Homo sapiens: one gene and its partners. The protein of the gene in region 3 purifies or fractionates together with the protein of the main gene of each other region. This does not show direct contact. Each region holds a gene or a part of one and is shown on either strand. Other genes may lie near its edges. The genes, in order: KLHL24, ZNF496 and ZBTB34.

Region 1 (3,749 bases), on a different chromosome or scaffold from region 3:
TACACACACACACACACACACACACACACACACACACACACATACACACACGATGGATTATCTGATGGGTTTGATTATATGGAGTTGTATTGAAAGCATTTTATCGTTTTAGAAAAACTAAGAGGACATTGTGATAGATCCATAATAAAATAAGCAAAGAAAGAGGATAATTATTAAAACTCCAAGGAAAACCAAAAGCCATACAAGATGGGAAATTGTATACGATTTGTCTCAACAATGAATAATAAATACATGGTCTCATTAGCGTAAACATTAATGATTTAACCAGATTATGAGAAGGATAGCTTCCTTAATAGGAAATAGTCATACATTATTTGGAAATATATAAATACCAGAAGAAATAGCTCAAATAATTGAATAAGAGATGGAAAAGAGGCCTAAAAAGTATGTTTAAAAGGCCTGTATATAGGCCTTCCATATTATTTCCGCCTCTGGTCATCAGAACACAACGCCTAATTTAATAGAGGCATGACGGTATTCATGACATGTAGAAGATAGAGATTTTTAAATTTGGTATCAGAAACCAAAAACTAGTTAAATGGTTGCAATCATCCTTTAAAAGAATACCTGCAGGCGGGGCGCAGTGGCTCATGCCTGTAATCCTAGCACTGTGGGAGGCCAAGGCAGGCGGATCACTTGAGGCCAGAAGTTCGAGACCAGCCTGGCTAACACAGCCTCTACTAAAAATACAAAACATTACCTGGGCGTGGTGGCGGGCACCTGTAGTCTCAGCTACTCGGGAGGCTAAGGCGGGAGAATCGCCTGAACCCGGGAGGCAGAGGTTGCAGTGGGCCGAGATTGCGCCACTGCACTCCACCCTGAGTGGCAGAGCGAAACTCTGTCTCAAAACGAAACAAAACAAAAAGCTTGCAGACACAAAACGACAACACAATGTCCTTTAGGAACTCCATCTACCTTGGAAAACAGGGATTTGTGACAGCTTTGGTCGACGTGCATGTGCGTTTAAAATAAAAAGGTAACCTAGGATTTGATACCAGGGACAGTAACAGCTTTATCAAAAAAAAAGAGGTGGTTTTCCTTGCTCCTTCTAAGGACTGGGGTTTTAGTCTCGTCCACCCTGCAGGCCCTCAGGCCTGATTTCCGATTGTCTATCAAAGGGTCAAATAAAAAGCTCTCTAAGCTTCGACCCAAGCTTTAAAGTCGAAGGGCTGATCGCGGGCTTTTTCCTTGGGACGTGGCAGGGGCCTTTGAGGGAAGGAAAGAAACGACTCTGGCTTCTCACTCGGCTCCTTACACAAGAGGCATTTTTTTAACTGTCTCTGCTTAAAACAAGGTGTTTTTGAGTCAGCAGCCCTTTGGGTGGGTCTCGTCCTCTTGGGCACCCGACACCCACCCCACGGCGGGAGCCCCAGGTGGCCCCGGAGGCCACCGGGAAGCGTGAACTACATCTCCCAGGGTTCCCCGGGGCGGAGGACGCCCACCCGGATTGGCCAGGGTTCGCTGACGCTCAGTGTTTTGGCCCGGACGGTCACATGTTTCCTTTGTTGTGAGCTGCGGCAGAGACTGGTGGCTGGAGGAGACGCCGGCGCTGGAGAGTGCGCTGCGCCGCCCGCCGCTGAGGGACCGCGGGGTTAGCCACTGCTGGCTGCTTCCAGTGTTCGCCGAGAGGTACCGGGGGTGACAGCTCCGGGACCGGCCGAAAGGCGAGGAACCGGTCAGAGTCTGAGTCCTCGGGGGCGGAGGGGCGACGGCGGTCCTGACCACCGGGGTGTCTGCGGGAGGGCAGCCAGCGGCGGCCGGCCTCTCAGAGCCAGACTGGCGGTCTGCGGAGAGGCTGCAGCTGGGCTACAGGGCCCCTTTCTGAGGCGAGGGGCCTCCAGGGTTCACCTGGGGGGTCTTCCTCCCCCGCTTGGTAGCTACAGCCCTGAGGGAGGGCGCGCGCGCCTCCTGGCACTACGGCCCGGAACCGCGGCGCGGCTGGTGCGGCCTGGCTAGGGCGGGGTGGTTGCCGGGACTGGGGGTAGCCGCAGGTGCGGTAGGCTAGTCGCCGCGGGGCCGGGCGCCGCCGGGGGAGGCGGCTGGGCAGACGGGTGCTGCTTGTTGCCGATGGGCTGCGAACGGGGCGCTGCTTTTTATTTCAGGAAGCCCGGGGGAGTGCGACCGCCTCAAATCCAGCCTTCTTGTTTGGTGGGACGACCGTCGGTTCTGTCCGGGAGGAATGACGGGGTCAAGGTGGGGTCCCCAGGGCCGCGGGCCCGTGAAGCCCCATTAAAGCGATTGCGAAATGCACTCGGCACTGTCACCTGACCGTTACCCCCGCCCCCGTCCCCTGCGAGCCTTTGTTTACCACGATCGCGACACCCGGCCCGCTGCGGCCGTCCCCGGGGAGCCGGGGCGGGCGGGGGAGCGGGCGTTCCGCCGGCGCAGTCCCCGCCTAACCTCCCCACCTTCTTACCACTCCAGGACTCAGTTTCTTAATTTAGTTCCTAATGGACCCGCCCTCAAGTTCTGGACACCCCGGGTGAAGACTGTTAACGCGGCGGGGATTGGGCGCCTGCGGCAGCTTGTGGGCGGTACCCGAGGGAGAGTTCGAGTTTTTATTGGCGAGTTTTTATTGTCACTAGGTGGGCCTGCCCTGGGCCATTCTTCCCGCCCCCTTGAAGGTGATCTGGAGGACGCGCGGGAGCGCGCGCTGTCGCTGCTTTTGCAGCTGCGGCCCGAGTGGAGCCGGGTGGCGCGGGTGCGGGAGGCGCGCGCTCCCGCCCCTGCTGCGGGCGGCTGGTAGCCTCGGTGGCCGCCGCCGCCGCTGCTGCTGCCTGATCCTGCAGGCAGTTCTGGGCACGCAGAGATCGGCTACCGTGGCCTGCCCTCCGAGGACCGGAAAATTAACACCCTTTAACTAGTGTCGCGTTATCTGCCGGGTGGTTCGCAGGAAGTCCTGCGAACACGTTGTTGCCAGTTCTGTAAACGTGTTTAGATAGCTAAATATAGATCACAGTGCCACATCTTAGGGGGCCCCACGGTCACCCCTGAGGCAGTGGCTGTTCACAATTGATTTTAGTGGATTTTAATGATTAATCACTTGCTCTTGTGGGCAGCTTTTCAAAAATCACGTCTTTGTATTTGCAGCTACAGACTGGGTCCACCAGCTAAGAGGTTGGTTTTTATTAGGGTTGTAAAATAGATTTAAAATCTGCTTGTTGTTGGCTGAGATTTAAAAGCAGATTTCTACTATTTAAAAAAGATAGTTTGAAGATACTCCCCTAAAAAGTAAAGATTCTTCCATACTCGGCTCGGATGAGTTGTTTTCCTTGTTTGAGGGATTCTAGGTCACACACTTCTATGTTTTAATTCCCGTGGTAATTCAAAATGTTTGAGAAGTGGGTTGCGACTGTGTCGTTTTAAAATTGTACATTAAGCTGACGGTAATAAAATCTTCAAGACCAATCATTTTTAGCCATAGTGTGTTGAAAATGGTTTTTCTAATCGCTTGAGTTAATAGGGTATTTGCGTTTTGTCAGATTTTCTTCTGCAGATATAGGAATTCACTCAAGACTTAATACACTTGTTTTGTTTTTGAGACAGGGTCTCACATTCTGTCACCCAGGCTGGAGTGGAGTGGTCTCACTCCGTCACCCAGGCCATCTCAGCTCACTGCAATCTCCGCCTCCCGAGTTCAATCGATTCTCCTGCCTTAGTTTCCCGAGTAGCTGGGATGACAGGCGCCCGCCACCACGCCCGGCTAGTTTTTGTATGTTTAGTAGGGA
Region 2 (3,649 bases), on a different chromosome or scaffold from region 3:
TCTCTTCTCCACCGGCTGGAGTCTGTCCGGCTGCAGGTGTATCCGCCGGTGGGAGAGCAGGTGGGAGTTCAGGCGGAAGCTCTTCCCGCAGGCACCACACCGGTAAGGCTTCTGGGCCTCGTGGCTCTCTAGGTGCCCATCCAGGTCCTCGCTGTCGCTGAACAGCTCCCCGCACACCGAGCACTCGTGCGGCTTCTCCTGCTCCCTGCGGCTCCGCAGATGCCGGATGAAGTTGACCCTCCAGCGGAAGATTTTCCCACAGTTCGGACACACGTAGGACTTCTTGGAGGTCTGCACCTCGCCTCCGGCCTCGGTGCTGCTCCGGTGGGAGGCGGGGAGGCTGCGCTGCTTCTCTGTGGGGCTCCCCAGCTCTTCTGTGCAGTACGGGCCATGCTGGGAGTCCTCGTCCCCAGAGCTGGAGAGAACGATCTCGATGGTCACTTCTTCATCCAGGCTGTTCTCTAGAGATCGCGGGTTGCCGCCAGCTACAGGAAGGCAACATGCAGGTCAGCGACGCTGCACAGGCCACATCCCAGCCCCTATGACCGCGGCGGAGGAACACTCAGCTTGGAGTTTACAAACCCGTGTTTTTACAATGGTCCTCGGTGACCGGGGCGGCCTGGCCAGCCCTGCAGGGGCCACTGGTGTAGCCTGTGAGGAAGAAATCTTCAGCATGGGCCCCGCTGTGTCCAGAGCATGCTGGGCACCTTGCTCTCCCTCTTCCCAGCCATTTTCCCTTATCTCCACCCCCAACCCTTTTGTTCTCTACCCACGGAGACCACCCCATCCCCCCAAGCTCTAGGAGTCTGTATTTATCTGGGTAAAGCCTTGACCATTTACAGATCATGCACTTAACAAGGCATGGGGGAAAGCTCTATCAGGATAGTGAAAGGACTTGAGAGAGGAAGACTCTACAACCTACACATATCATGTGCTGGGCACTTGCATGCTCCAGGGACTGTGCTAGACTTGACATGCACATTCCTATTTGCTCCTGGACGCAACCCGATGACCTATTGGTTGCCATGTTTACACATAAACTAAGGTGATCTGTGCCAGGAAGGAGGGCTGAAATGCTACTCAGCCTTGCTAGGCTGCTCAACAGTCCCAGACTGCCCAGAGTCCTGGGTCCCCCACAGCTCCCCGGCTCCCAGTAGCACCGCATTTCTGAGGCCACAGGTGGTGATGGATAAAGCTGCTCTGGACTTCCTGCATCCTGAGTCTGTGATGTTGGGAAGGTGGAACCACGGGGCGGGGCTGGGTGGACAGTGCAGAGCCCGGCCTGAGGTCCCGGCTTATGGAGCAGAGCCCACCATACAGGTGGCCTGTTTCCTCACTGCTGTGAAATGTAGAACTCAAATCTAGAACTTGGGGGGAGTGAACCAGGCCCTCCCAGATAAGAGTAGGAACATGGTTAGTCTGGGCTTCATGACTGTGGGGAGGAGAGCCCTGGCTAGTCAGAGCAGCTCAGGACAGGAGAAGTTGGACAAACAGAAGCAGGGCAGGAAGACACAGAGGCTATGGAGAGCAGAGAGATAAAGGGCAATGGTGGAAGCGGAGGGGGCATTTGTCCCTCAGTCACAAGGGGGTCGGGGGAACATGAGTCTGGGAGTGGGTACTGAGTCTGCCAAGAACCCACGTAGTATAGGAGGGAAATCATCAGATGAAGACAGAGATTGTGTTTGTGTGTGTGCATGTGTTTTTAATTTTTTGTACAGATGGGGTCACATTATGTTGCCCAGGCTGGTCTCAAACTCCTGGGCTCAAGCGAGCCACCCATCTCAGGTGATCCACCTGCCTCAGCCTCCCAAAGTGCTGGGATTACAGGTGTGAGCCACTGCGCCCGCCGAGAGGCTATGTTTGACGCTTATCTCGACTCTTGGTTTTCGAGCTGCAGGAACCTCGTTCCAGCCAGACAGCTTCTCTGAGCTTGGGTCATCTCGTCTACAAGGTGAGAATGACAGTGGCAGCCCGTTGCTCTAAGCTGCTGGTGGGGCAGGTGAGGTCATGTGTATGATGTACTTTGTGGACCTCATGGGGTGGAGACAAGAGCAAGGTGTAACTTTTACCAGGCTGCCGATGACAAGGTACTTGATCAGCAGTTGACTTCTGTTAATGGACTTGGGTGGAAGAAGAAAACAAAGTGACAAGGTGGACCGCTAAGATCTCTTACTTGTTAACTGGGCGAGGAGATGGAATTATGAGAGCAGACAGTGCATGTTATGGGCGAAATTGTGTCCCCCTGAAAATTTACATGATGAAGCCCTAACCCATAGAGCCTCAGAATGTGATTACTTGGAGATAGGGTCTTTCAAGAAGTAATTAAGTCAAAATGAAGTCAGATGGTGGGGCCAATCCAAAATCACTGGTCTTCTAAGAGGAGGAGACTGGAGGCAGACTTCAACAGAGGGAAGGACCCTGTGAGGACACAGCAAGATGGGAGCCGTCTCCAAGACGAGAAAGGCCTTGGAAGACACCAGCTCTGCTGAAGCCTTGATTCTGGACTTGTTGCTTCTGGAATTGTAAGAAAGTAAGTTTCTGTTGTTTAAGTCACCCAGCCTGTGGTACCTTGTTATGGTAGCCACAGTAGACTAACATAGACTTTGGCACCAGGAAGTAGGGTGCAGCTAAAACAAAGACCAAAAACTGTCGAAGTGATTTTAGAACTAGGTCATGGGGAGAGGCCAGGAGAGTTCTGAAGTGCATGTTTAAAAAGCCTTGAGGAAGTGGCTGGTAGAAATACGGACGTTATAGGAAATTGGAGAAAAGGAGATCCTCCAATTATAAAGTGGCAAAGAATTTGGCCAAACCATATTCAACTGTTCTGTGGAAACAGAAATTGTAAGTAAGGAACTCGGATACTGAGCTGAGGAGGTATCGAAGCAAAGTGTCAAAGGCAAAGACTAGTTTTTTGCCGCTTATAGTGAAACGTGAGATGAGAGAGATAAACTGAAGAAGGAATTGTTGTAGCAAAAAGGAACCATGACTTCAAGATTTGGAAAATTCTGTCTATCCATACGGCAAAAAATAAGAAAGCGTGCACTGGAGAGACACCAAGAGTGTGGCTGGCTCATCATTTGTTAAAGAGATTCTGGGTATGATTCACGGATCCAATCAACCATCTCAACAGAAGCCAGGAACAGAGATGAGGTTATCCAGGAAGGTCTATGGAGGACACCCTCGTCTGACGGCCTGCAACCCTGTGGACTGCATGGAGGGCAGGGTTTCTGAGTATTATATACCAGCAGAAACACTGCCAGCTGGAACTGAAAGGAAAAGAGATGGGATGAAATAAAAGAAGGCTAGGACTTCTGGGATTCTACAAACTGGCCGATAGATCTATCTGGCTATGAATATGTACTATCCTTCAAGAAAAGGGAAGAATGACTCCAAAGGTGGCTCAGAGGTTACAGGACTGCCACTGTCATCATGGGACCAGAGAGTACAGGCTCAGGAGGTGAAGTCATTTCCTTCTGAGTTCCAAAGAGCAGGGCCAGTAGCCTGCTGGGCCTGGAGAACAGAGAACTGAGCCAGAGGTTATTGCTGAGCCTTAAAATCCCATGGAAATGACCTGCTAGATTTTTTTTTTTTTTTTTTGAGATGGGGTTTCGCTCTTGCTGCCCAGGCTGGAGTGCAATGGCATGATCTT
Region 3 (3,649 bases):
AATATAATTGTTAGATCTGGTTTTGTTATGTTTCTGTCAGAGGATGGAGCCGGGGCTATATATACTTAAGTAGTTCTGAGCAGTCTGGCGCTGCAGATTTTAGGCCACAGGAAGGAAACCTGTTGTAGGTGTGCCGCAGCTGTGAGCGCTAGTAGAAGGTGATTCCTTTTGATGTGTCCATCACCCTTTCACTCTTGTTGTCTAAAATAACTACTGTTTAAAAACACTGTCTTGGCAGAGCGCGGTGGCTCACGCCTGTTATCTCAGCACTTTGGGAGGCCGTGGCAGGCAGATCACTTGAGGTCAGGAGTTCGAGACCAGCCTGGCTAACATGGTGAAACCCCATCTCTACTGAAAATACAAAAACTAGCTGGGTGTGGTGGTGCACGCCTGTAGTCCAGCTACTCAGGAGGCTGAGGCAGGAGGATCACTTGAACCCAGGAGGCAGATGTTGCAGTGAGCCAAGATCATGCCATTGCACTCCGGACGACAGAGCGAGACTCCATCTGTAAAAATAAAATAAAAATAAATAAAATAAAATATTGTCTAAAATAACTCTTCACTGGTCGGGTGTGGCAGCTCACACTTGCAATCCTAGCACTTTGGGAAGCTGAGGTGGGAGGATCACGAGCTCAGGAGTTCAAGACCAGCCTGGGCAACATAATGAGACCTCATCTCTAATAAAAAATAGTAATAATAGGCCGGTGTGGTGACTCTTGCCTGTAATCCCAGGACTTTGGGAGGCCGAGGGGAGCAGATCACCTGAGGTCAGGAGTTCGAGACCAGCCTGGACAACATGGTGAAATCCCGTCTCTTCTAAAAATACAAAAATTAACTGGGCATGGTAGCGCATGCCTGTAATCCCAGCTATTCAGGAGGCTGAGGCATGAGAATTGCTTGAACCTAGGAGGCGGAGGTTTCAGTGAGCCGAGATCACGCCACTGCACTCCAGCCTGTGCAACAGAGCAAGATTCTGTCTCAAAAAAAAAAAAAAGTAATAATAACTCTTCACTGAAGGAGACTGAGCATGGTAAGTCTCAGCCAAAGCAACCCAACCCAAAAGAGATATAAAGGTGTACAGAGCTGAAGGGCAAACACACAAATCAAGACAATAATACTGAAAAGGGTTTAGCTCCATTTATTGTATCCAGTGTGCTACAGAGTTGAAAAATACCAATCAGAAATACACAAGTAAGGTAGAACATTTTTAGATGAATTTAGTTTTGTTTTTGTTTTGTTTTTTTTTTTTTTTTAGAAGGAGTCTCACTCTGTCCGCTAGGCTGGGATGCAGTGGTGTGCTCTCGGCTCACTGCAACCTCTGCCTTCTGAGGTCAAGCGATTCCCCTGCTGCAGCCTCCCAAGTAGCTGGAATTACAGGTGCACAACACCACACCAGGCTAATTTTTGTATTTTTAGTACAGATGGGGTTTTACCATGTTGGCCAGGTTGGTTTCAAACTCCTGACCTCAAGTGATCCGCCTCCCTCAGCCTCCCAAAGTGCTGGGATTATAGGTGTAAGCCACTGCGCCTGGCCTGAATTTAGTTATTTTTCACAAAGTACTTCAAACCCTCAAAAGTACTTGAAATGGGGAAATATTTTTCCTAAAAGGAGACCAATTTCTCAGTCAGAGCCAAAATAGTCCTACTATGTGTAAAATATTTTACTTTTGATCAAGATGAATATTAGGCAATTATGACATTAGGCTAATTGATCATTAGTTTATTTGGCTTTAGGTGAATTAACCAAAACATGAAAGACTAAAACAAGGGGAAGAATGCTTCAGGTAGATTTTAGGAGGTATGATAGCCACAATGGTATTGTTGTTGTAAGCTTGTGTTTATGCCACTTGTACTTAGTGAGGAGTCATTGGTGAATGATGCAAACTCTCTCTCTCCGCAGAGTACGCTTCATGTCAGTAGAAATGGACAGCAGCAGTTTTATTCAGTTTGATGTGCCCGAGTACAGCAGCACCGTTCTGAGCCAGCTAAACGAACTCCGCCTGCAGGGGAAACTATGTGACATCATTGTACACATTCAGGGTCAGCCATTCCGAGCCCACAAAGCAGTCCTTGCTGCCAGCTCCCCATATTTCCGGGACCATTCAGCGTTAAGTACCATGAGTGGCTTGTCAATATCAGTGATTAAAAATCCCAATGTGTTTGAGCAGTTGCTTTCTTTTTGTTACACTGGAAGAATGTCCTTGCAGCTGAAGGATGTTGTCAGTTTTCTGACTGCAGCCAGCTTTCTTCAGATGCAGTGTGTCATTGACAAGTGCACGCAGATCCTAGAGAGCATCCATTCCAAAATCAGCGTTGGAGATGTTGACTCTGTTACCGTCGGTGCTGAAGAGAATCCCGAGAGTCGAAACGGAGTGAAAGACAGCAGCTTCTTTGCCAACCCAGTGGAGATCTCTCCTCCATATTGCTCTCAGGGACGGCAGCCCACCGCAAGCAGTGACCTCCGGATGGAGACGACCCCCAGCAAAGCTTTGCGCAGCCGCTTACAGGAGGAGGGGCACTCAGACCGCGGGAGCAGTGGGAGCGTTTCTGAATATGAGATTCAGATAGAGGGAGACCATGAGCAAGGAGACCTATTGGTGAGGGAGAGCCAGATCACCGAGGTGAAAGTGAAGATGGAGAAGTCCGACCGGCCCAGCTGTTCCGACAGCTCCTCCCTGGGTGACGATGGGTACCACACCGAGATGGTTGATGGGGAACAAGTTGTGGCAGTGAATGTGGGCTCCTATGGTTCTGTGCTCCAGCACGCATACTCCTATTCCCAAGCAGCCTCACAGCCAACCAATGTATCAGAAGCTTTTGGAAGTTTGAGTAATTCCAGCCCATCCAGGTCCATGCTGAGCTGTTTCCGAGGAGGGCGTGCCCGCCAGAAGCGGGCTTTGTCTGTCCACCTGCACAGTGACCTGCAGGGCCTGGTGCAGGGCTCTGACAGTGAAGCCATGATGAACAACCCCGGGTATGAGAGCAGTCCCCGGGAGAGGAGTGCGAGAGGGCATTGGTACCCGTACAATGAGAGGTTGATCTGTATTTACTGTGGAAAGTCCTTCAACCAGAAAGGAAGCCTTGATAGGCACATGCGACTCCATATGGGAATCACCCCCTTTGTGTGCAAGTTCTGTGGGAAGAAGTACACACGGAAGGACCAACTGGAGTACCACATCCGGGGCCATACAGATGATAAACCATTCCGCTGTGAGATCTGCGGGAAGTGCTTTCCATTCCAAGGTACCCTCAACCAGCACTTGCGGAAAAACCACCCAGGCGTTGCTGAAGTCAGGAGTCGCATTGAGTCCCCCGAGAGAACAGATGTGTACGTGGAACAGAAACTAGAAAATGACGCATCGGCCTCAGAGATGGGCCTAGATTCCCGGATGGAAATTCACACAGTGTCTGATGCTCCCGATTAAGATGGTAAAGAAGTGCACCCAAACAAAGCACATTAATCAATGCATATTTGTGATTTGCTTTGTTGTAATCTTTGGTTTTCCCAACCATCTGGAAATCTCTTGGTCTCTTGGCAGTTTTTCTAAAGTTTCTGGATGGAACACTTCGTTGTGTTTATCCTTTCCCCTGCCCTCCCTCCCCGAAGGAGCTCAAAGCATGAAGGGCAACGCATCCAGGGAAAACACAG

Evidence for each region.
Region 1: the proteins of ZBTB34 (region 3) and KLHL24 purify together in Homo sapiens (affinity purification with mass spectrometry; one large-scale study listed by BioGRID and IntAct). This does not show direct contact.
Region 2: the proteins of ZBTB34 (region 3) and ZNF496 purify together in Homo sapiens (affinity purification with mass spectrometry; one large-scale study listed by BioGRID and IntAct). This does not show direct contact.

What each region holds. Positions count from the first base shown.
Region 1 is NC_000003.12:183,634,098-183,637,846, forward strand, and holds the start of KLHL24 (kelch-like protein 24), read left to right. Parts: upstream 1-1,525; 5' UTR 1,526-1,696; exon of another isoform or gene 1,697-2,214; intron 2,215-2,437; exon of another isoform or gene 2,438-2,512; intron 2,513-3,749. UniProt on the Homo sapiens protein: Necessary to maintain the balance between intermediate filament stability and degradation, a process that is essential for skin integrity.
Region 2 is NC_000001.11:247,300,792-247,304,440, forward strand, and holds part of ZNF496 (zinc finger protein 496), read right to left. Parts: intron 486-3,649; coding exon 1-485. UniProt on the Homo sapiens protein: DNA-binding transcription factor that can both act as an activator and a repressor.
Region 3 is NC_000009.12:126,877,490-126,881,138, forward strand, and holds part of ZBTB34 (zinc finger and BTB domain-containing protein 34), read left to right. Parts: intron 1-1,900; coding exon of another isoform or gene 1,901-1,910; coding exon 1,911-3,425; 3' UTR 3,426-3,649. UniProt on the Homo sapiens protein: May be a transcriptional repressor.